3 separate regions of the Homo sapiens genome follow, and all the other regions are linked to region 2. Evidence: fine-mapped expression QTL. A gene starts in region 2. Each other region holds a variant in brackets. All regions are shown on one strand. Distances are from middle to middle. Region 1 overlaps RSBN1L (round spermatid basic protein 1 like). Region 2 holds the start of APTR (Alu-mediated CDKN1A/p21 transcriptional regulator). Region 3 overlaps PTPN12 (protein tyrosine phosphatase non-receptor type 12).

Region 1 (8,183 bases), 41 kb before region 2:
ATACAAATGCACAAAGCAGACCACACACACAAAGTACCACAGATACACACGTGTATAGAGTCAGAGCCAGAGAGAGTGTGCCAGACTGGGAGTGAGGGAATCAGAAACAGAGATGCAGGTATACTTAGAGCCAGAGAGAGACACTCACAGAGGCAGAAAGAAGCGCACACAGAAACAAAGACAGCATGTGTTGTTAATGGCTAATTATGAAAAGAAAAATAAAAAAAAACTTTTAAGATCACAAATTCATTGAGTTAATTCTACCACTAATTTTCGTATACTTTCTGTATTAATAAAGTGAAAAACAAAATTCAGAAAAATTTATAAAATTTATATCTATCTTTCTCTCTCCCCCATCCCATTATTACATATAGGAAAAAAGTACTAATTAGCTTAGTTATTCTCAACTTTTGGCCTCTGGGATTCGAATCTGCTTTTTTTGCACTGCAATGTTGTCACTCTTCCAGCCATGATTTACCTACCTGTGACCTTTAGTACACTACCAGTCACCTTGGACACTGGCTTCTTTCAACCCTCATTCTAACTGCTCACCAGCAAACTTATTTAAAATGCTATAATGACAAACATTTACTCTAAAAAATACTATAATCATAACACATGTTCTCACACTTTATCATTAATAAACAACATAAAAATGCCTGGAACATAATGCATACAATCAGAAAAAGCAGTTGGTGAACTTTAGTATAAAATAAGACCCACTAAATAAGCTTTGTTTCAAACTTATTTGTTCCTTTAAACTATTTTGAAAAGAGCAAATAATCCAACTTTCTTACCAAATAAACTTTTATAAGGTTTTCGCATTAATAAAACACTTTTTATCATATATATAATTTTGTGTGTATTTCCAGTCAGAAAAAACTTGACAGGCCGGACGCAGTGGCTCATGCCTATAATCCCAGCACTTTGGGAGGCCGGGTCAGGCAGGCTGCCTGACCTCAGGAGTTCGCCATCAGCCTGGGCAACATGGTGAAACCCTGTCTCTACTAAAATACAAAAAATTAGCCCTAGGCATGGCGGCGTGCGGCTGTAATCCCAGCTACTCAGGAGGCTGGGGCAGGAAAACTGCTTGAACCCAGGAGGCAGAGTTTGCAGTGAGCCGAGATCGCGCCACTGCACTCCAGCCTGGATGACAGAGCAAGACTCCTCTCAAAAAAAAAAAAAAAAAAAAAAAAAAAAAGACACATTTTTTTTTTTTTTTTTTTTTTCCTGAGACCAAGTCTTGCTCTGTCACCCAGGCTGGAGTGCAGTGGCACAATCTCGGCTGCAGCCTTTGCCTCCTGGGTTCAAGCAATTCTCCTGCCTCAGCCTCACGAGTAGCTGGGATTACAGACGAGCGCCACCACGCCCGGCTAATTTTTCTATTTTTAGTAGAGATGGGGTTTCACCAGGTTGGCCAAGCTGGTCTCAAACTCCTAGCTTCAAGTGGCCCACCCGCCTTGGCCTCCCAAAGTGCTGGGATTACAGGCGTGAGACACTGCGCCCAGCCTACCTGACACAATTTTTAAGAAAAACCTGGAGAAAATGAATTGGTGTGACATACTTGACATCTATTTTAGATTTTCAAATGCCATCATCCATCAACACCTGTGTATACCACAGCTTGCAACATTATCATTAACAGAAGAAAAAAATTACAAGGATAGAATAAAAGTTGGAGGCCACAAGGAAAAAAGTGGCACACAGTAGTAAATGAAAGTATATTTTCCCTCAGCAAAGTAAATGATTTGTTGTTCCAAGTCACCAACAACAAAAGATGCCTTTCCCTACCACCACCACAGGCTCACTTGGGAAATGGCCCCACATACTAAGCAAATTCTTTCTCGTAGATAGTAACAACAGATAACACTCAGTGCTTTCAATGCGACAAGCACTGTTTTCCCAATGAATCATGTGTTTATTCACTTAATTATCTATGTACTACACACTGAGGAGAGGAGATAGTTTGGTTTTATTGGTGTTTTTTGTTTTTTGTTTTTTTGAGATGGAGTCTCTCTCTGTTGCCCAGGCTGGAGTGCAGTGGCACCATCTTGGCTCACCGCAACCTCCGCCTCCTGGGTTCAAGCGATTCACATGCCTCAGCCTCCCGAGTTGCTGGGATTACAGGCACCCACCGTAATTTTTTGTATTTTTTAGTAGAGATGGGGTTTCACCAACTTGGCCAGGCTGGTCTTGAACTCTTGACCTCAGGTGATCCACCTGCCTCGGCCTCCCAAAATGCTGGGATTACAGGCTTCAGCCACTGTGCCTGGCCAATTTTGTTGCTTTTTAATCACAAAGTTAATCTCTCATACATACTTACAAGAAAGATTTCATAACTATTTACTACTCAGTAGTAAGTACCTGTGAGCCAGATTCTATACTTGGCACTTTCCTCATACTTTCCCTCATTTAATCTTGGTAACACTGTAAGGCAGTAATTAAATTATTACTTACCTCCACTGTGAATACATTTTCCCTAAATTTTTCCATGGACATCCCAGAAGTCACAAATTAATTTCCACATCTATCTCATTCTTTTACCTTAATCATCACTAGTTTCAGTTTAACTCGGTTCAAAATATCACCTAAATTTTTGTCTACTTCAAAGTTAATATCGTATATTTCATTTTTTAAAAATCTCAATTTTTAGGCTGTTTTAAATTTTATTTTCATGTGTAATCTCTGGATTCACATAATTCACATTATGTTAGGAATCCAGTATTCAATCAAGAACATATGAGGCTTTTATAAAGTATTTCTAAAACAGATTCCTTCTCAAGTAATAGAATTTACAGCATGATATTTTCAAATGAATAAGAAAACTATTTGATTAAATCAGAAAAAAAAATGGCTATTGGGCTAAACCAAGGGTAAAGTTAAGTAGACTTGACTTTTTCTTTTCTTTTTTTTTTTTTGAGACTGAATCTCACTCTATTGCCCAGGCTGGAGTACAGTGGGGTGATCTCAGCTCACTGCAACCTCTTGTCTCCCGGGTTCAGGCAATTCTCATGCCTCAGCCTCCCCAGTAGCTGGGATTACAGATGTCCACCATCATGCCCCACTAATTTTTCATTTTTAGTAGAGACGAGGTTTCACCACATCGGCCAGGCTGGTCTCAAACTCCTGACCTCAAGTGATCCACCCGCCTCGGCCTCCCAAATTGCTGGGATTACAGGCATGAGCGACCGAACCTGGCCTTAAGCAGACTTTTCAAGCATTCATCACTAGCTGCTATAAATAACTAGTGTGGTTATATTCAATTCCTGCCTCAAAGGCTTACAATCTAATTAGACAACACAGATAGAATATGCAGGCAAAAGAAACAGAACAAAAGGATCATGAGCATTAACTAATAAGCAGCCATCAACTTAAGCTCTGACGTATTTCTTCAAGGTTGAAAGAATATCGTAGAAAATGAAGTTCTGACATGTAGATAATAGAAAACGAATATCTGAAAACATGACAAAGAATGCAATGAAAATACAGAATCTAATACTCTTTATCTTAGATAATATAAACTACCAGTTATTTTGCTACATATGCAGTGTCGTGGTCTTTCCCCCTCAAGCAAATATAAAGCCTTATCAACAATTAAATTCAATATGAAGTTAATCAAGGTCAACATATTCTCATCATCAACTATCAACATGATAGCACTAGTAAATTTGCTAGCTAGTGAATTCGCTAGTTGTCTAGCAACCGAATGCCACGGATTCTTCTTACCTTGACATCTGAGTGAATTTAAGACTATCCTTACGTCTATTCTACCACAAATTCTCTCTTTACAAGTTCAGACTTATTGACAGGATTTGCAGTATACTTATTACCCAACCACCTACCCCCCAAATTCTTCTCTCCACCCCACCCTCATATATAAACAGCAAATGAATGCAACTGTAACAGAGAAAAAAAAGAATAAAACAAGGATATTCTTAAACATACAAGAAACATACCGCTTCTGATTTAGCTCAGAGTAAAATGTTCCCTCTAAATGCTAGACTATGGTATGGTGATGACAGTCAAATATTTTTAAGAAGATCACTTACTTCACCATCCCTATCATACTAAAACTTGCTTTGGCAATTTTTCTTAATTTCTTCCTTTTAGATTATCTAAATATGAGTAAGACTAGTAATGCAAACATAGAATTAACTTATTTTAAAATAATTTAAGAAATTAAGTTTAACGAAGCTTAACCTTTTAACTTTTTAATGGCTCACTAAATATACTATAAGACATGTTACCATACAGATTAGAACTCTCCGTTGTTACATTTACTTTTCATTTCCTCATCATTGTTCATTCTCCGCAAAATTCAGCACCAAATAACATTTCTTATTTTATTCACTTAGCCAATAAAGATACTGAACAGTATAATAAAGTAGAACTAAAATCACTGAATAAAACTTACTTTTCAGCAAAATCTTTACTTCTCCATTCTCTTTCTTGATCTCATTCATTACTTTATGTTTCTTTTTTTCTCTTTCTTTTTCTTTGTCTCTCTCTTTAATTTTGTCTTTGATTTTATCTGGAAGACAAAACAAAGGAAATATTTAAAATGAAAAAATTACAACTTCATTTATCTGCACAAACTATAGGTAAATTTCTGGAATTACAATACACAAAGAAAATCAGAATGAGGAACAAATAATGCCTTTTCTTTTTCCTCTCAGGTTTTGGGGAATATTTCTAAATTTCCCTTTTTATTGAATATGAAATACATATTGTCAAAATGTATCATTATACATTTTATTCTAAGTATTCTTCACTTCGTGTCAACCAAAATATTAAATTTATTTCAAATCACTTAAAATAACTAACTTTAGGTGAAGCAAAAGCTACGATGGAAAAGTGCCAGTGTTGAAATTGAGCATCTATGGATTAGCAGCATAACAGAAAAATTACTTGATCTCAGTTTCCTAATCTGTAAATGGTAATTGATACCTTCCTCATTATGGTTACTATAAGGACTAAATGAAAAAATATATAAAATGACTACATAGAGCCTGGCATACATAAG[A/T]CTAGATGTTGGTTCCCTTACCCTTGGCTCCTTTTAAAAATAGTATGACTCAATCTGACTACTTGGTGATACTGTGATATTTAAATAAAGGGCATAATAACTCTAGGGATCATTCATTTGCATTCTAAAACTTCAAACAAAATATTTGATAGCCTATTAAATTCTTCTTTGTTCAAATGACTTCCTATGCACCCAGCAAAAGACAAAATACAGAGAAGGATATACAAATAGTGACATAAACCTTTGCCCTCAAAAAGCTTACGACTGATTACAAAACCATGATGGAAGTATACAAGAACTGTGAAATGTCCTGGAATATAGTAGAGATTATATAGTATACATGCATACTGCATAATCTCTTAAAAATCACTCCTTACTTTCCTTTCTATAAACACTACCATAACCCAGGTCCTAATCATGTAGTGATTAGATTACTGTCTATATAAGCACTGTCCAGATCTAGACAGTAATCTAAATCTGAATTGGTAAACAATTTTATTAATTTTAATGATATATTTTGCTTAACCCAATGGATCCAACACATTATAATTTCAACATGGAACTGATATTTTTAAATGATGAGATATTTTACATTTTTTCATAAGATTTCAAAATCTAACATATATTTTACATTTATGACACATCTCAATTTGAAACTAGTTTCACTTTAAGTGTTGAATAGTCACATAAAACTAGTGTCTACCATACTGAATAGCACAGGTCTAGACTACTTAAATAAATTTTCAAAAAATTAAATTCATGTGCTAATAAACATTTTTAAACTTCAATCATTAATAATATACAAATTAAAAGACATTACTTTCACCTATAACACTGACAAAGTGTTTTTTGTTTTTTTTTTTCAAGTGATAACACTCCAAGCATACGAAAGTACAGCAAACAGGAATTCACTGACTCAACAAATACACAGTCTGAGTACAAGAAAAAGATTAGGGATACAGGGGAGAATAAACGAGATAAAACTCCTTATCTGTTCACATATAACTTAACTTCTGAATTAGATTACAGTGTTCCCACACTTCTGATTGGTTTGCCACTCTTACTTTCTGATGTTAAAGTCCTTGAAATCCTGTCATAGGCTGCTGTCTAGCTATAAAATGTTACTCCAGGCCGGGCGCGGTGGCTCACGTCTATAATCCCAGCACTTTGGGAAGCCGAAGTGGGCGGATCACCCGAGGTCAGGAGTTCAAGACAAGCCTGGTCAATGTGACAAAACCCCATCTATACTAAAAATACAAAAATTAGCCGGATGTGGTGGTGCATGCCTGTAATCCCAGCTACTTGGGAGACTGAGGTAGAAGAATCGCTTGAACCCGGGAGGTGGAGGTTGCAGTGAGCCGAGATCATGCCACTGCACTCCAGGCTGGGTGGCAGAGTGAGATTACATCTTGGAAAAAAAAAAAATGTTACTCCAAGTAGCTGGAGCTTAGACACATTATATAATATTTCCTAAGTAACTAAACTTCTAACAAAATGAACTATTTATATATCACTTAAAATTACAACTGAAAAAAAGTCACCTAAAACGTCTCCACATTTCTTTTTCCAATAATTCAATTTAATCTTATCAACTTAAACGTATTATTTTAGTAACTATTAAATTTTATTAAAGTATAATATTAATGTAATAAAATGAAGATACTTGTGAAACGGCACCACAGAATCCTTCTGTGTTCCCTTCCAGTCTTTGTATAGCACCCCTAAAGGTACTCAGGATGCTGACTTGTAATCATACAGGTTAAAATAACCATAAACTTTTTTTTCTTTTTTTGAGACAAAGTCTTGCTCTGTGGCCCAGGCTGGAGTGCAGTGGCACGATCTCAGCTTCCTGCAACCTCCACCTCCCGGGTTGAAGCAATTCTCCTGCCTCAGCCACCAAGTAAATGGGATTACAGGCACACGCCATCGCACTCGGCTAATTTTTGTATTTTTAGTGGAGATGGGGTTTCGCCATGTTGGCCAGGCTGGTCTCGAACTCCTAACCTCAAGTGATCTGCACGCCTTGGCATCCCAAAGTGCTGGGATTACAGGCGTGAGCCACCACACCCAGCCAACAACTATAAACTTTTAATAGCATATATTCACTATATAAGCCTACCACAATCACAAAACATAAATATTTTTCAGAATAAAATTAAACTAGCTTCTAGGGAAATAAAACTATCATACACTATGACTCAATTATTTTTAAACTTTAGAAATATACATACATTCCAAAAACAAACTGAAAGATAACCCAAATTATTAAAAGCCATTATTTAAAATTATTTATTTAATTAAATATTTAACATATTGAATATATTTAATTTATTTAACATTTAAAATTCCACTATTTAAGGTGGAAAGTTTCTAAGTTTCTGCAATGGGCACATATTAATTTCATAACACAGGAAAAGGAATCTTAGAATATGCACTCGGGTATGATATTAAATAATTCAAGTACAGTTGAAGGTATGAAGTTATTATGTGAAAAACATCTATAGAAACAAAAACAATGGCAAAGCCAAGACAGGAGAGTTATAGACAACGTAATTGCAGTTACCCCTCCTGATATCAAAACATCCTCAGCAAACACAAATAATCCCATCTATACATAAACAAAGGGCATTTTTTTGTGACATCACTTCTGTCCTTAACCCACACATCTGTCTTGCTCTCACCTCTCAGCCTTTCAACCTACCTTTCACCCTTCTTACAATTTTTCCACTTTTTGGTAGAGCCTATCCTTTTTCAAAATCCAGTCTTTTATTCTTTATTTTTTCTTTAATAGAGACAGGGTCTCGCTATGTTGCTGAGGTTGGTCTCGAACTCCTGGGCTCAAGCAATCCTCCTGCCTCAGCCCCTCAAAATGCTCAGATTGCAGGCCTAAGCCACCACGCCCAGCCCAAAATCCAACCTTAAATGCCTCCATTAAACTTCCTGTAGTCATGTTACATGGCAGAGCTATGATAAAGTGGGATACCTACAAACTCAGGAGACCTAGGTTCAAGATTATGCTCTACAACCTAGATAACTGACAAACTTTCAGATCTCCAGTTGCAGCTGTAAAATGGAGTTTGTGTAAAGATTAAATAGAAAATACATACTGAGGCAGTTTGTAAAGATAAAAGCCTTCCAAATGTAGAATAATATCTATTTA
Region 2 (8,183 bases):
CCCTTGGTATATGTCCACTTTTACTTTCCACACTTACCAATTCTACAATTTATTCAGTCTTACAGGAATATTGATTAACTCTCCAGTAAATTACCTCCGTAAGCACTAAAATCAGGTTATTTTCTGGTTTTAAAAATCTAAAATGTTGGCCAGGCACGGTGGCTCACGCCTGTAATCTCAGCACTTTGGGAGGCCAAGGCAGGCAGATCACAAGGTCAGGAGTTTGAGACCAGCCTGGCCAACATGGTGAAACCCCCTCTCTACTAAAAATACAAAAATTAGCCAGGCGTGTTGGCGAGTGCCTATAATTCCAGCCACTCGGGAGGCTGAGGCAGGAGAATTGCTTGAACCCGGGAGGCGGAGGTTGCAGCGAGCCGAGATCGCGCCACTGCACTCCAACCTGGCCAACAAGAGCGAGACTCTGTTTCCAAAAAAAAAAAAAAAATCTAAACTGTTTTGCACTTTTCCTTCTTATAAGAAATTTAACTTTTACTTGGTGAGTCAAGCTATCACGCAAGTCAGCTACAGTACTATGATTAGATGGCCTTAGAGATTGTGAGGCATCAGGCCCTGGTACTAAATGGGGCCATATTAGTATACTTTCATAATTCTCTTGTTCAGCATTCTTAACTTTCATATCTGTCAATGATCCTTCCTCTATCAGCATTCACCCATCTTTCAATTAGTTATAGGGTTAAAAAATTAATAACTATGCTTCAGACTCAAATAACATTTACTAAATACCCTGCTAGGCCCTTTCTTATACATGCTTTCATTTAACCCAAATACGTTCTGTTAGAATGGTCACCAATGTAAAAATAAAGCAGTTCTGACTTAGGACTTTTTAAAAGCCCTACTATTAATAAATACAGGAGCTTAATTGTTTAATCAAATTGGGGTGCAGGCTAGGTCTTTCGAGTGTGTGTGGTTCAGTTTTGTTTTGTTGAGGGAGAATCTCTTCCTTGTTTAGGTGTCTTTATAGCTAATGTCTGGTTCTGACTCAGACTGTTCAATCAGCCAGCTGTGGATAATTGAGGGGTTACTGAACCATGCACAGCCAACTTAGGGCAACACTAAAAAGAGGTATATACCTAAACAAACACTTGGTCACCCATTCACTAAGATTTTTACAAAAAGCACAGAGAAATGATCATTGTATTGCAAATCAGGACTTTCATATTTGCAATTATATCTATAATAAAGGCATATATGTATTCTTGCTATACCACTTGTTAATACCGCTATTTAAGAATCTTCTTAATTCGTTAAAACAGAACATCAATTCAGTTAAATCCAAACTTTAGAAAGATATAAGTATTCCCCAAGTTACGAGGGAAAAATTTTCACCATTAAATTTACCACCAAGACACTGGAAAGGAATCTTTTTCTCTGATAGTTTTTCCTCAACAAGATAGCATTTGTGTCTGAAAAAATGAAAATCTTACAGTAGTGTTAATATCTTGTCACTACTCCAAAAAACCCACATAGGTCATGGGAAAAGATCATTCCCACATCTTAATGTAAAACCTATCACTGTTTATATTCAGGATTAATAATATTAGTGTTAACCCTCAAAAGAAGAAGGATTCTAAATGTAATTGAAAAGACTATAAAAATTCCTCTTTAACAGCCATTTCACTTTAAGGACCATTTGTGTACTCCACATTTTAAGTTAGAATTGTTAAAGAATGCTTACTTATTTCTTCTCAAATATTCCATTACTCCAACTATGTAATACTCATATTCACTTCCTCTTTCAGAGAACTTACAGCAAATGTGCAGTTTACACACCACAAACACTAGTGATGATACCAAGCTGCATATGGACAAACTTCCAGGCACTTATCTCCTAAATTTTACATATAAATTGTTAAAACAAAATAGCTTTAAAATACTAATCACCTGGAATTCCTGACTAAAAGTACCAAAATCCCATCCTCAAAACCACTTTCCTAGAAACAACACTCCCAGAAGCTGAAAGATATTTACATTGCACCAGAGTCCCTGATGGCTATGCTTAGATGTTAAAGCTTTGCTACAGGCAAAAAATATCAAGGAAGAAGTGACACTATTGCTACATGCACATGCAGCATGTTTTAAGTTGTGAAAACAAACCATTATAATCCAAACAGAATTTTTCATGATCTGAGCTACTGTTAGATCAGCAATGCTGAAACTGCTTGACATTTCTTTTTCTAAAAAACAAAAAGAGTTATTTGACAACACTGTGTAGCAGTGCACATTTATAATAAAGATTATGCGCTTTAAGCTTGCGATCACATAAAGATTTGATTTTCAACTAGTCCGTATGTTGCACTATTGTCAGATCATTGTGTATCCGTAGCTGAAGTGGTGGAAACACCTGAAAAATTATACGACTAGCCTACATTTAAAAACAAAACTGACCCTGTCTGACAAGAACCCTTAAGAATTCGCCTTTTTCTAATGCTCAAACATTCTGCAGCCGCTTGATCTGGCGAAAAATCGTCAAAGCTCCTGGTTTTATCATTTGCTGCAGGGAAAAAAAGAATATGGCTGAAAATTCTTTCAGAAGGGTGGTATTTCAAACAGGACCACCCAAAACACTTAAGAATACGCAGCGGAGAGTAGGGTGCAGGGAGGGTACCTTACGAAACAGCGCACTTCGGGCCCTGCACGCTACCTCATTTCCCTAATAGGGATGAAAAGCTCAGGCCTCTGGTAGCTTCCAGCTGACGCCAGTGCTCTCTCCACACCCCTTTTTTGACAGGATTATCCGGGGTTGAACGCTGTGTCACAAATACGAATTCCCGCGACCACGTCTAAGTGGTCTAACAATCAATCAAGCATCTTTTACAAAACCAAACCCTTCCCCCATCCCGTTCCCTCCATCTCTCTCCCTAGCCAAACAAACCTAGGAGAGTCCTCAAGATGGATTTTCACAAATCCTGCAGCGCACTAACTGGGAGGAAGAAACGATACAGAAAATAAGAGTGTCGGCCATCCCCCTCTCTGCAACCGAAATTACAGGCTCCATTTCCTGTCCCCTTGGGAACTGCAAAATCCTCTGCTGAAAACCGGACGCCTCCCAGCCCCTCCAGGCCGGCGCACGCGGCCGCCGCGCTCCCCCTTCCCGGGCCCCGTGGGCGCCAGGGGGCGGCGGGGACCCACGGCGCCCTCCCCTCCCCCTCCCCGCACGGCACCCACCTCGGGGCAGCGGCTTCACCTCCCCGTTCTCCTCCCGGGAGGCCCCGCCGGCCTCTCGGGCCCCACCGAGACCGTGCCTCCTCCTCTCCTTCTCCCGCTTCTCCTTAGGTCTGCGCGACTTGGCGTTAGCCGAGGCAGCGGCGGCGGCGGCGGGCAGGAGGAGATGGTGAGGCTGAGCGTGCAGCAGCGTAGGAGGGACCAGCAGTTTGCGCGGCACCGGCTGAGACAAGGAAGCGGAGGCTGAGGAGGGAACGGCCGTGCCAGCGGAGAAAGAGAAACTGCTCCGAGAAGAGGACGGGGAGGGAGCAGCAGACAGAGGGGCAAAGCTCCAAGACGCGGGGCTGCCATAGCTCTGAGGCGAAGGTGCTGCCGGCGGCTGCAGCTGCCTGCTGTTCCCGCCGCTGCCCCCTTCTCCGTTCACTCTCCGCGGTGCCTTCTTCTCCTCAGTCCGGACCTTCTTGGCGGACAGAGAACCCGGAGGGTCCCGGGAGGAGAGTTGCAGCTTGCCAAACGGTTCTTTCTCCGAGACGGTGGCGGTGGGGGCCGCGGCAGCGACACAGTGCACGGGGCTCGGCGGTTCCGCCATTTTGCGCTCCTGTTGTATTTACTCTCCTCCGCTAGCCGGCGCGGGGCAGGGGGCGGGCCCTCCGCGAGGGGTAGGGAAGGGGCGGAGCGGCCAGGCCACCAGCCGGCATTGCTCCATTGGGCAAGCCACGCTGAGGGATCCACCTAAGAGCCAATCAAAGGCACAAACATCAGACGAAGGGGCGGGATCGCCACAGGGACCCTCTTCGGAGGTCAGAGCTCGGCGGGGTGCGGCTAGTGGCGGAGCGCGCTGCGAGGGGAGGGCTTTCCACTGTCGCTGGCGTGAACTCGCGTGCCCGGTGGGTATCAGGGAAGAACCCCCGCCCCGGACCCCCAGATCTGCCATGGCCGAGGTAGCGATCGTCTCTGCGGCCACGAAGACTGTTTTAACTTGTACCACTTTCCCTTCCATTTTTCCTGGGGTGCCTCTCACCCTGCATCTGCGCGTTCAGCAAGCTGGATTTCGGGAATGCTCAGTTCAGAAGAGAAAAAATTGCCGGGAATCAAGTCCTTCTTTTTGTTAGTCGGTAGTCGATTGATGGGAAGTGTTCAAAATCATTCGATGTGGTGACAAGGTACGTTATTATTGCTAGATCATGTGCTGTAATCCATTGAAGGAGATAACTTCCAGCAAATCTAGAACTTTAGTATTACTTACAAGCTTGAAGGTGAGAGTCTCCCTTTGGAGACTTTTGAACTGTTGTGACTAGACCCTTAAGATTTTTATTTTATTTATTTATTTATTTATTGGGACGGAGTTTTGCTCTGTTGTCGAGGCTGGAGTGCCGTGGCGCGATCTCGGCTCACCGCAACCTCCGCCTCCCAGATTCAAGCGATTCTCCTGCCTCAGCCTCCCCAGTAACAGGGACTACAGGCGTCCGGCACCATGCTTGGCTAATTTTTGTGTTTATTAGAGACGGGGTTTCACCATGTTGGCCAGGCTGGACTCGAACTCCTGATCTCAGGTGAGCGGCCCACCTCCGCTTCCCAAAGTGCTGGGATTACAGGCGTGAGCCACCATGTGCGGCCTTAAGATTTGAATTTTATAATAATTATTATAGCCGGGCGCGGTGGCTCACACCTGTAATCCCAGCACTTTGGGAGACCGGGGCGGGCGGATCACGAGGTCAGAAGTTCGAGACCAGCCTGACCAACATGGTGAAACCCCGTCTCTACTAAAAATGCAAAAATTAGCTGGGCATGGAAGCGCGCACCTGTAATCCCAGCTACTGGGGAGGCTGGGGCAGGAGAATCGCTTGAACCCAGGAGGCGGAGGTTGCAGTGAGCCGAGACTGCGCCACTGCACTCCAGCTTGGGCGACAGGGCAAGACTCCGTCTCAAAAAATAATAATAATAATAATAATATTATTATTATTATAACGTAGACTTGCCAGGAAAAATTCGTTGGCGATTATTTATGGATGTTTGAAAAGCAAGAATTGTTTTTTTAGGTTTCTGTATTTTAGCGTTTAGTAAGCACACTGCGTGTTCGATGTTTTGTAAGCATGTGCTTTGATTTTTGCTTCGAAAATAAGCAATTTGGGGAGATGGGTTTTAGCTTAAAAGATAAGGAATGTGGCCGGGCGCGGTGGCTCATACCTGTAATCCCAGCACTTTGGGAGGCCAAGGCGGGCAGATCACAATGTCAGGAGTTCGAGACCAGCCTGGCCAACATAGTGAAACCCTGCCTCTACTAAAAATACATAATTAGCTGGGCGTAGTGGCATGCGCCTGTAGTCCCAGCTACTCTGGAGGCTGAGGCAGAAGAATCCCTTGAATCTGTAAGGCAGAGGTTGCAGTAAGCTGAGTTCGTGCCATTGCACTCCACCCGGGGCGACAGTGCCTATTTACTCATTTTTTTAAGAATATTTTTAAGAATTTTTTTTTTTTCGGCCAAGAGTGGTGGGTGGCTCACGCATGTAATCCCAAGACTTTAGGAGGCGGTGATGGGTGGATCACCTGAGGTCAGGAGTTTGAAACCAGCCTGACTGACATGGTGCAACCCCGTCTCTACTAAAAATACAAAAAAAATTAGCCAGGCGTGGTGGTGCGTGCTTGTAGTCCCAGCTCCTCGGGAGGCTAAGACAAAAGACTCGCTTGACCCCTGGAGGTGGAGGTTGCAGTGAGCTGAGATCGTGCCACTGCACTCCAGCCTGGGTGACAGAGTAAGACTCCATCTCAAAAAAAAAAAAAAGAATGTTTTGGAGTCAAATTTAATATTGGTTTATGGACTTATTTTTATGTGCCTCAAATTTTTTAAAGTAATAACAGTATTTAATATGTAACATGAAAACTTTCTAATTGGAATTGACTGGCAGCAGATGTCTTCAAGAAAATTAGCATTGGTGGGAGAGTGGACTGAGTGGATTAGGCTGGAAATCATCTGCTAACGCACTAGTTTCGTGACCTTAGTCAGGCTGCTTCACTTGTTAGGACCTCCGTTTTCTTACCTGTTGAGTTAGCATATTTGATTACGTGATCACTAAGGTCCCTTCCACACTCAACTTATGCCATATTCAAGAAGCTTTTCAAAATCACACCGAAACCATTACAATTGAATTCATTTTTTAATTGTTGGCCCTCCTGATCTAGAAAAGTGTCTCTAACATACATTAATGTAGTGCCTGGAAACTTGCACCACTCATTCTCTAATCTCTAGCACACAGGTCTGGAAAATCGGACTTCTTAAGAGCCCAGTTAAACTACACCCTTGCCTGCATGAATTTGTTACTCCTTGCATTACATTATACTTTCATGCACTGTTATTAGGCCTGGCACTTAATTTGTAGAGCCTAAGCAAGAGTGTGGCTATAGAGGTCCACACACCATCTGTCTAAATATTTAAAAAATAAATCAAGATAACAAACTATTATATAAAATACATTCTATTCTACTACCTTGACAGATCCACTTTCATATGATCTGGAAGTCCATGTTTGAATTTAGAGTTCTTAGAGTCCCCACACTGACCCCATTCTCCTCCCATCCCCAAGTTCACCTGCCACACGGAAAGGCCATACATGCACCCAACATGTCCAGGTGTATGTCCACATCCCCCTACTCCGCAAATGGTGATGTACAATCGGCAGCTCACTCTGCCCTCAGATCTAGCCAGTCTAAAAGAGGAGGGCAGGCTCCAGGCAGACATGGCCCCTGACCTCATGGGCTCCTTGTTCTTTACAGCAAGAGGAGGGCCAAGTAAACAGAGGCCCCTTACCCAGATCTAAAGACAGGACTTGTCTGTTATTAAAACATGCGCAACTATCTCTTTTCTGTGCTGTGTAATTAGCCATTCCCTTTCAACTAGATTATTCTTGTCAACACTTAACTGGCAGAGGTTTTCTACCACTATCACCAATTTCTTTTAGCATAATCTCTTTATAATCTCATATAGGTTTTCCATTCTACAGCTAGAAAGCTCTTTTCAAAACCTTGGCCGGGTACAGTGGCTCATGCCTGTAATCCCAGCACTTTGGGAGGCCGAGGCAGGCAGATCACCTGAGGTCAGGAGTTTGAGACCAGCCTAGCCAACATGGTGAAACTTTGTCTCTACTAAAAATACAAAAATTAGCTGGGCATGGTGGCACGTCCTTGTAGTCCAGCTACTCGGGAGGCTGTGGTAGAGAATCGCTTGAATCTGGGAGACGGAGGTTGCAGCGAGCCAAGATCACGCCACTGCACTCCAGCCTGGGCGACAGAATGAGACTCTGTCTCAAAAAAAAAAAAAAAACGAAAACGAAAAAACCTGGATCTGACCATCTCTCTTGCCTTGCTTCAGACCTGAAGTCAATGGCTTTCATTGCTCTCGGGACAAAAAACAAAATCCTTAATGTGTCCTGTAAGACCTTTCATGAACTATCCCCTTCTTCTATTTCAAACTAACAGGTCTTTAATCTCCAGAACCCACCATGTTGTCTTTCAACATAGAAACATTGCATATGTGATTCTCTCTACTTGACGTGCTTTTTCCTTTGGCTGTTGCCTATGTGATGATTTGGATAATGAACATAAGGGAGGCAGATATCATGAATACCTTCTATATTTCTAACCAGCAAAACTTGGCAGTGGTACCATTCCCTGAGCCAAGAAACAGTGGAAGAGTGACAAGTTTCAGGTACTCTTGGACCTTGGACCTGTTGAACGCGACGTGCCTTTTCTCATCTCCATTCCTTTTTGCTTTTCAGTCGTTGGTGTTGTTGACTCACTGGTTATCTCTTGCTTCCTTTTCCATTTCATTCTCTGTAACAGCTCTACCGAAAGCATACTACCCTACCTACCCTACACCCTGCTTCTCCACCTTTTTTTTTTCTTTTTTCTTTTTTTTTTTTTTTTTTTTGAGGTCAGGTCTCAGCTCTATCACCCAGGCTACAGTGCAGTGGCAGCTTCACAGCTCGCTGCAGCCTTGACCTCCT
Region 3 (8,183 bases), 88 kb after region 2:
ATAACACAACAAAAGGGAGTTAACTGTGGCTCTTTAATTCTGCTTAACTGAAAAGCATATACACAAGGCCAGGAGTGTTGGCTCATGCCTGTAATCCCAGCACATTGCACACTGGGAGGCCAAGGCGGGCAGACCACCTGAGGTCAGGAGTTCGAGACCAGCCTGGTCAACATGGCGAAACTCCGTCTCTACTAAAAATACAAAAACTAGCTGGGCACAGTGGCGTGCGCCTGTAATCCCAGCTACTCAGGAGGCTGAGGCAGGAAAATCACTTGAACTTGGGAGGTAGAGGTTGCAGTGAGCTGAGACTGTGCCATTGCACTCCAGCCTGGGCAACAAGAGTGAAACTCTGTCTCAAAAAAAAGAAAAGAAAAGAAAAGCATATACACAAATAACTAAAACACTTTATACAAAATGAAATTCAAGTAGAATCAATGCAGAATTACTTGGGTGGGGGTGGAAGGGAAGAGTAAAGAGAACAATGCAATTATTTTTTAAAAAAGTAAAACATTAACGAATTATATGATTTTTGACATGAGATCTTTCCTAACTTTATTTCATTTAGAACATAATTTACCTTATATCGGAGTCATTAAATAGCCATCATAATACAGATACGAATAAGAAGGAAATGAGTTTAAGTAAAAATGTTAAGTGTCCTGGATATTCTTCTCATGTTAGACAAAACACAAGACAACAAAAAAAAGGCTAAATATTACATCTTAACAAAGAGTAAAAGTTTCCTAAAATTAATAGACCAAGAACACCTACCACTCCATCAGCAATTTTCTGAGCTCCATGAATTTCATATAGTTGTAGCTGTTTTTCAAACAGTTGGGCAATAGCTCTATGAACAAGTTCATATTGCTCCTATGAAGGAGAAAAATGATTAAAAAACAAAATGAAAACAACATTTTAAAAAAGAAGAAAGCATTTATAAAATAGCAGTTTATAAAGGGAAACAAACAACTATACCTTTGTTTGTACTGCAGAATGCCTTTGTGTTCTCATTTCTTGTATTAAATTAAATACATTAAATTCCTCTGGTATTTTCTAAAACAGAAAATTTAATACATCAACTTTGTGTATCTATTCAGAAAATAGTAAAATCTTCTTCAGCTTTTCACATAAAACTTAAATACCTGCTGGTTTACTGCAAACATTTATTGAACACCACTTAATGCATCTCAGACACTGTGCTTGGCACTGTGGAAACAAAACTGTTCTTGACCCTCAGCATTCAAGATGGGGAGACAGTTATGTCCAGCCAAAGTATGACTGCAGTATACAGGGAATAAAGAGGCTATGGCTAACTGTTGAGTGTGTGCAGCTACAACATAGTTGGATATCAAAAGAAGGTTATCCCATAAAAAGTGAAGGAAATATACATAAGCACAGCAGATTCAATGTATAATCTATGTGGGGAATTGAGAAGTTTGATGTAAACAAAGCCTAAGACTAAAAGAAGGAGAAGGTACTCAAAGGAGGAGAGAAGATAAGGATATTTAGGATCAGACTGTGAACATAATAAAGAGACTGAATTTATTCTATTGGCCAGTATCTCCTGGATTGGCTATATAAGGACCAGCTAAAAGACCTAGGTAAAAATATAGATCCTTTGGCTCCAAGTTGGGGAACTAATTATGAAACGACCTAGACAATTCTTTTGTGTATATGGAATTGCGACTACTGCAATAGGCAATGTTGACATGAGAAGATCTGATATTCACACAATTTTTGTATCAAGGAAGAGGACAGTCTGAAAGAGTGAGAAACTGGCGGAGGTTTACAGAAGCAGAAATATCATAACTGTTATCAACAAGAATATTTTGGAGTGATTAAGATGGAAGGGTTAAAAATGATTTCCAGGTTTGCTGCTTGGAAGTCCTTATATACATCATAAGATTTTTGGGTTTTTTTTTTGTTGTTTTTTTTTTGAGACGGAGTCTCGCTCTGTCGCCCAGGCTGGAGTACGGTGGCGTGATATCCGCTCACTGCAAGCTCCGCCTCCCGGGTTCACGCCATTCTCCTGCCTCAGCCTCCGGAGTAGCTGGGACTACAGGCCCCCGCCACTACGCCTGGCGATTTTTTTTATATTTTTAGTAGAGACAGGGTTTCACCGTGTTAGCCAGGGTGGTCTCAATCTGCTGACCTCGTGATCCGCCCGCCTCGGCTTCCCGAAGTGCTGGGATTACAGGCGTGAGCCACCGCGCCCAGCCAAGATTTTTACATGAAGACTTAACAACTAGGCCGGGTGCAGTGGCTCATGTCTGTAATCCCAGCACTTTGAGAGGCCAAGGCAGGCGGATCACCTGAGGTCAGGAGTTTGAGACCAGCCCGAAACACGGTGAAACCCCATCTCTACTAAAAATACAAAAATTAGCCAGGCATGGTGCCGCGTGCATGTAATCCCAGCTACTCGGGAGACTAAGGCAGGAGAATCGCTTGAACCTGAGAGTCAGAGGTTGCAGTGAGCCGAGATTACACCACTGCCCTCCAGCCTAGGCAACAGAGTGAGACTCCATCTCAAAAAAAAAAAAAAAAGAGAGAGAGAGAACTATGTTCAAAATACACAACTTTTATTTTATTTTATTTTTTGAGACGGAGTCTTGCTCTGTCACCCAGTTTGCAGTGCAATGGCACAATCTCGGCTCACTGCAACCTCTGCCTTCCAGGTTCAAGCAATTCTCCTGCCTCAGCCTGACAAGTAACTGGGATTACAGGCGCCGGCCACCACGCCTGGCTAATTTTTGTATTTTTAGTAGAAATGGGGTTTCACCATGTTGGCCAGGTTGGTCTCAAACTCCTGACCTCAGGTGATCCGCCCACCTCAGCCTTCAAAAGTGCTGGAATTATGGCATAAGCCATGGCACCTATCCAAAATACACAACTTTTAAAATGACCAAATGTTTGTTTTGTTTGCTAGCATTCATTTATGTGTCCCTTCTCATTCCAATTTTAATCTTTGACTTTTATGTTAAAATGTGATCGAATTCCAGTTAAATTTTGTTCACTTAAGCATTTTCATTTGAGAATTAGATGATTATAGTTTTTGAGGAAAAAAATATTTAACCCCAGAGGGCTTTTTAAGGAACTGTTTAACATGTAAATATTTCCTTGCAACAATAAAAAATGGAGAGATGGCAGGGAAAAAAGAGAAATAAGGGGAAGAAGGAAGAAAAAGAAAAAATAAACATTTTATTAATTCTACTCTGTACAAGACAAAGATGAACAATTCATGGAAACTATAAAGCTATGAAGGATTAAAGGCGCCTCTCTAGAAATGAACACATTATGGAACCAGCAAAAGAATCAAATGTATACATAATGAAGAGACTTGTTTTTCAAATCTATAATGAAGGCTGTATCTTATTTATCTCTGTATCATCCACAGTATCAAACACTATTTCTTGGAAAAAGCAGTAGTAGGAACAACAATCACAACAGCAACAGTAATCAACACTAACAATAAACTGAGTACTTACAATTTACCACATAGTTCTGAAGAACTTCACAAAAGTTATTTAATTCTTATGCATTACTACTACTATGACCCCTATTTTCTGATAAAGAAATAGAGGCACTATGGGATTAGTATTTTGACCAAGATCCCACAGCTAGTAAATGAGAAAGCCAGAATTATAATCTGGGCAATTTGGCTCGAGTCAGCATTCATAGACTACAATACTATAATGTCTCCAGCAGGCATAAATACATACTGAGTGAAATACACTTATACCTAGA[G/A]TAAACATAAAAGGCAATGGGCCAGGCACCGTAGCTCACGCCTACAATCCCGGCACTTTGGAAGGCCGAGATGAGTGGATCACCTGAGGTCAGAAGTTCGAGACCAGCCTGGCCAACATGGTGAAACCCTGTCTGTACCAAAAATATAAAACATTAGCTGGGCGTGATGGCAGGCACCTGTAATCCCAGCTGCTAGGGAGGCTGAAGCAGGAGAATGGCTTCAACCCAGGAGGTGGAGGTTGCAGTGAGCTGAGATCGCACCATCGCACTCCAGCCTGGGCAACAAGAGTGAAACTCTATCTCGGAAAAAAAAGAAAAAAAAAAAAAGGCAATGAAAATTTAGTATTGGAAAAGTCAGTAACAGTTTATATCCTAATGCAAGTATTCACTCACCTAGAACACTGTCACATTGTTCCCCAATGCATCCTATCAAAGGCAATATGCAGCAATTATACCTTTTCTCCACCTTTATTTTTTATAATCATTTTATTTTTTAATTATTTTTAGAGACGGGGGTCTCCCTATGTTCCCCAGGCTGGTCTCGAGCCCCAGGGCTCAAGCGATCCTCCCACCTTGGCCTCCCAAAGTGCTAGGATTACAGGCGTAAGCCACTGTGCCCGGCCTTCACTACCTTTATTTCTTACTTAATAAAACTACTTTGGAAAAAATAACATGTATAATAAAATATACACTATAATTTACTGCAATTATAATTAAGTTTGAAAATCATAATAGATCAATTGAACATAATGCTACAAAAAATTATTCTTACCCCAGCTTTTAGTAAATTCCACGTATAATCTATGGCACAAATGGCACCTGTTCTTCCACAGCCTGCACTAAGGATATAAAGTTTGAAAAACAATTGATTTTTGTGATAAAACAACTATAAAATAAATGTGGATAGACATGTTAATATTCAGAAACAAAAAATCATTTAAGAAGTTTGACAAAATTCTACTTAGTAATAAACAAAATACAACTTACAGTGTGTTCATGGCAACATCTGTTACACAGAATACATATACATATACACTATGATTTTTCCTATATGTACATACCTATGATAAAGTTTAATTTATAAATCAGGCACAACAAGAGATTAACAACAATAACTAATAATACATTAGAACAATTATAACAATCTATCACTAGTCACTACCTCACTACTGTTGAGGTTTGGGCCATTATAAGTAAAATAAGGGTCATGTGAACATAACCACTGGGACACCATGACAGTCCATCTGGTAACTGCAGTATCTACTATGTGACTAATGGGCTGGTAGAGTCTACAGTGTGTACACACTGGACCATGGGATGATTTATCTTGCAAGCAGGACATACTTCCCCATGCTTCTCAGAATGGTGCAGCATTTAAAACTTACAAAGTGTTTACTTCTGAAATTTTCCATTTGATATTTTTGAACTATGAGTAACTGAAACTGAGGACAGTGAAGTCTTGAATAAGGAAGGCCTATTGTCTTCTATCTTTTAAACATTTCATTTTTAAGGGGTTGGGCGCAGTGGCTCATGCCTGTTGTCCCAGCACTTTGGGAGGCCAAGGCAGAAGGATTGCTTGAGCCTGGGAGGTCGAGGCTGCAGTAAGCCATGATGGCACCAATGCATTCCAGCCTGGGTAACAGAGTGTGACTTCATCTCAAAAAGAAAAACAAAAATTAATTTAAGGAACTTCCAAGAGTAAGTGACACAGAGAATAGCTACTAAGTTGTCACTCTGGAAGTCTAATGCTACATCAGAAAATGTGACTAGCTAACAACGTCTTACAGAGACATTTATTCTATGTTCAAGATGGCTCTTGTGGCTGGGCGCAGGGGCTCATGCCTGTAATCTCAGCACTTTGGGAGCCTGAGGCCGGTGGATCACTTGAGGTCAGGAGTTTGAGACCACCCTGGCCAACACGGTGAAACCCCATCTCTACTGAAAACACATAATTAGCTGGGCGTGCTGGCAGACACACGCAATCCCAGCTATTCAGGAGGCTGAGGCAGGAGAATCACTTGAACCGGGGAAGTGGAGGTTGCAGTGACCCAAGATCGTGCCATTGCACTCCAGCTTGGGCAGCAAGAGTAAAACTCCAACTCAAAAAAAAAAAAAAAAAAAAAAAAAAGATGGCTCTTGTTTTAGAGTACAGGAGGAAATGGTACATCATTTCAATCTATAGAAGGTATAGGAAAGGTGAAGAATGCTATAAGCCCTAGAAAACGGATTGAGCAACAGCAGTGATTTCCACAAAAGAACAAGACAATGATATGCTCTCATATCCCAAAAAACTAATGGGAGCTGGGGACTTTAGAGTAACATACCATAGGTTTTTTTATTTTAAAACATGACAGGCTGGGCTCAGTGGCTCACGCCTGTAATCCCAACACAATGGGAGGCCAAGGAGGGCGGATCACCTGAGGTCAGGAGACAAGCCTGGCCAACGTGGTGAAACCCCGTCTCTACTGCAAATACAAAAAAAAAAAATTAGCCGGGCGTGGTAGTGGGCGCCTGTAATCCCAGCTACTTGGGAGGCTGAGGCAGGAGAATCACTTGAACCTGGGAGGCGGAGGTTGCAGTGAGCTGAGATCACGCCATTGCACTCCAGCTTGGGCGACAGAGCGAGACTCCGTCTCAAAAAAAAAAAAAAAAAAAAAAAAAAAACTCATGACAAAAGTATTTTAAAGTAACTGCTTCTCAACTAGAGAAAGGCTTATGCATCTTAGAATTGAAAATCACTATGAGTAATTATAAGATGTTACTGACATCACCAGAATAATCTTTGGCAAAAACCCCCACAAAGTTGTGTAACATTTTAATGCATATTTTGAAATGTATACCTATCAGCAGTTTGTTAAACATGTAACCTAAAATTCCTGATAAAAGTACACTATAAACAACCTAGAAAGATTTTTTAAAACTCTTAATAAACATAATCAATTATATTAATTTTTAGTTGATACATTTGTGAATTCTGTGCATCAAAACATTTATAGAATTTTAGTTGAGTTACTGGGATAAATTATATATATCTAAAATTTGATAGTTAAAAGTATAACATAAAGATACAGATAACCAGATCAATGAAACACAATAGAAAGTTCAGGAACAGATCTGAGTACATGTAACATTTCTTACATAACAGTGAATTCTCCAGAGATCAGACCGTTCAGTAAGTGGCAAAGGAGAAGTTAGCTATCAATGAAGAGCAAAAAATTAAATTCTGATCACATACCTTAACCATAAAAAATCCAGGTGGATAAAAATATATATATATATATGATATAAACATATTGGATATTTATCCAATGATAAATGTTAAAAAGTAAATCTATGAAAGTACTAAAAATATATGCAAAATATATACACTATTGTGTTAGGGAAAGACTTTCTATGTACAAATATCTCAATGGACAAAAACCATTCAAAAATCTGACATGACAAAATGAAACTTATGTATTGCAAACAGGCAGAAGACAGGAAAAACCATGGTACTTACAACATGAATAAAAGTTAATGTCCTCAATATATAAAGCACTTGTATAACTATTAAAAGATGAGGCTGGGCGCAGTGGTTCACGCCTGTAATCCCAGCACTTTGGGAGGCCGAGGCAGGTGATCACCTGAGGTCAGGAGTTCAAGACCAGCCTGACAAACATGGAGAATCCCCAACTCTACTAAAAATATAAAATTAACCGGGTGTGGTGGTGCATGCCTATAATCCCAGCTACTCGGGAGGCTGAGGCAGGAGAATCACTTGAACCCAGGAGGCAGAGGTTGCAGCAAGCCAAGATCGCACCATTGCACTCCAGCCCAGGCGACAGCCCAAGACTCCGTCTCAAAAAAAAAAAAAAAAAAAAAAAAGGAAGAAAAAAATGCAAACAAAGGCTGGGAACCGTGGCTCACACCTGTAATCCCAGCACTTTGGGAGGTGGAGGCGGGCAGATCATGAGGTCAGGAGTTCAAGACCAGTCTGGCCAACATAGTGAAACCCCGTCTCTACTAAAAAATACCCAAAATTAGCTGGGTGTAGTGGTGTGTGCCTGTAATCCCAGTACTCGGGAGGCTGAGGCAGGAGAATCGCATGAACCCAGGAGGCAGAGGTTGCAGTGAGCTGAGATCGTGCCATTGCACTCCAGCCCGGGCGACAGTGCAAGACTCTGTCTCAAAAAAAAAAAAAAAAAAAAAAAGCAAACAAAAAGATAACACACAGTATTGGGGAAGGTATAGGGAAATAGGTACTCTCACATACTGCCAGTGGCAGAATTAAGTAGCATCAATTTTCTGGATAACACATTAAAAAATACTCATTAAAATACTTTAAAAGTTTATGTCCTTGACCAACAAATCTCACTTCTGGATATTTATCCAATAATAACTTTGTCCTAATAACTGCAGATGTGCTCAAAGATTTAACAATAAGATGGCCATTAAAGTAA

What was found.
Region 1: its variant is fine-mapped to the expression of APTR in whole blood (INTERVAL, PIP above 0.99).
Region 3: its variant is fine-mapped to the expression of APTR in tibial artery (GTEx, PIP above 0.99).

Annotation. Positions count from the first base shown.
Region 1 is chr7:77,732,758-77,740,940 of GRCh38, reverse strand. It overlaps RSBN1L (round spermatid basic protein 1 like), which reads right to left. Exons shown (of 8, transcript NM_198467.3): 2 at 4,415-4,531. Among named protein-coding and RNA genes, the nearest start is that of RSBN1L, 40 kb to the right of the region's middle. The variant A/T (reference allele first, on the strand shown) is at 5,024.
Region 2 is chr7:77,692,059-77,700,241 of GRCh38, reverse strand. It overlaps APTR (Alu-mediated CDKN1A/p21 transcriptional regulator), which reads left to right and starts at 3,977. Exons shown (of 2, transcript NR_134254.1): 1 at 3,977-4,346. RSBN1L (round spermatid basic protein 1 like) reads right to left here and starts at 3,783. Exons shown (of 8, transcript NM_198467.3): 1 at 3,187-3,783. The coding sequence starts at 3,772. RefSeq lists silencers at 2,563-2,662, 2,953-3,272, 3,743-3,962 and enhancers at 3,483-3,712, 2,897-3,792, 3,793-4,688, 7,675-8,174.
Region 3 is chr7:77,603,635-77,611,817 of GRCh38, reverse strand. PTPN12 (protein tyrosine phosphatase non-receptor type 12) reads right to left here. Exons shown (of 18, transcript NM_002835.4): 9 at 4,517-4,583; 10 at 976-1,053; 11 at 772-870. Among named protein-coding and RNA genes, the nearest start is that of PTPN12, 70 kb to the right of the region's middle. The variant G/A (reference allele first, on the strand shown) is at 3,745.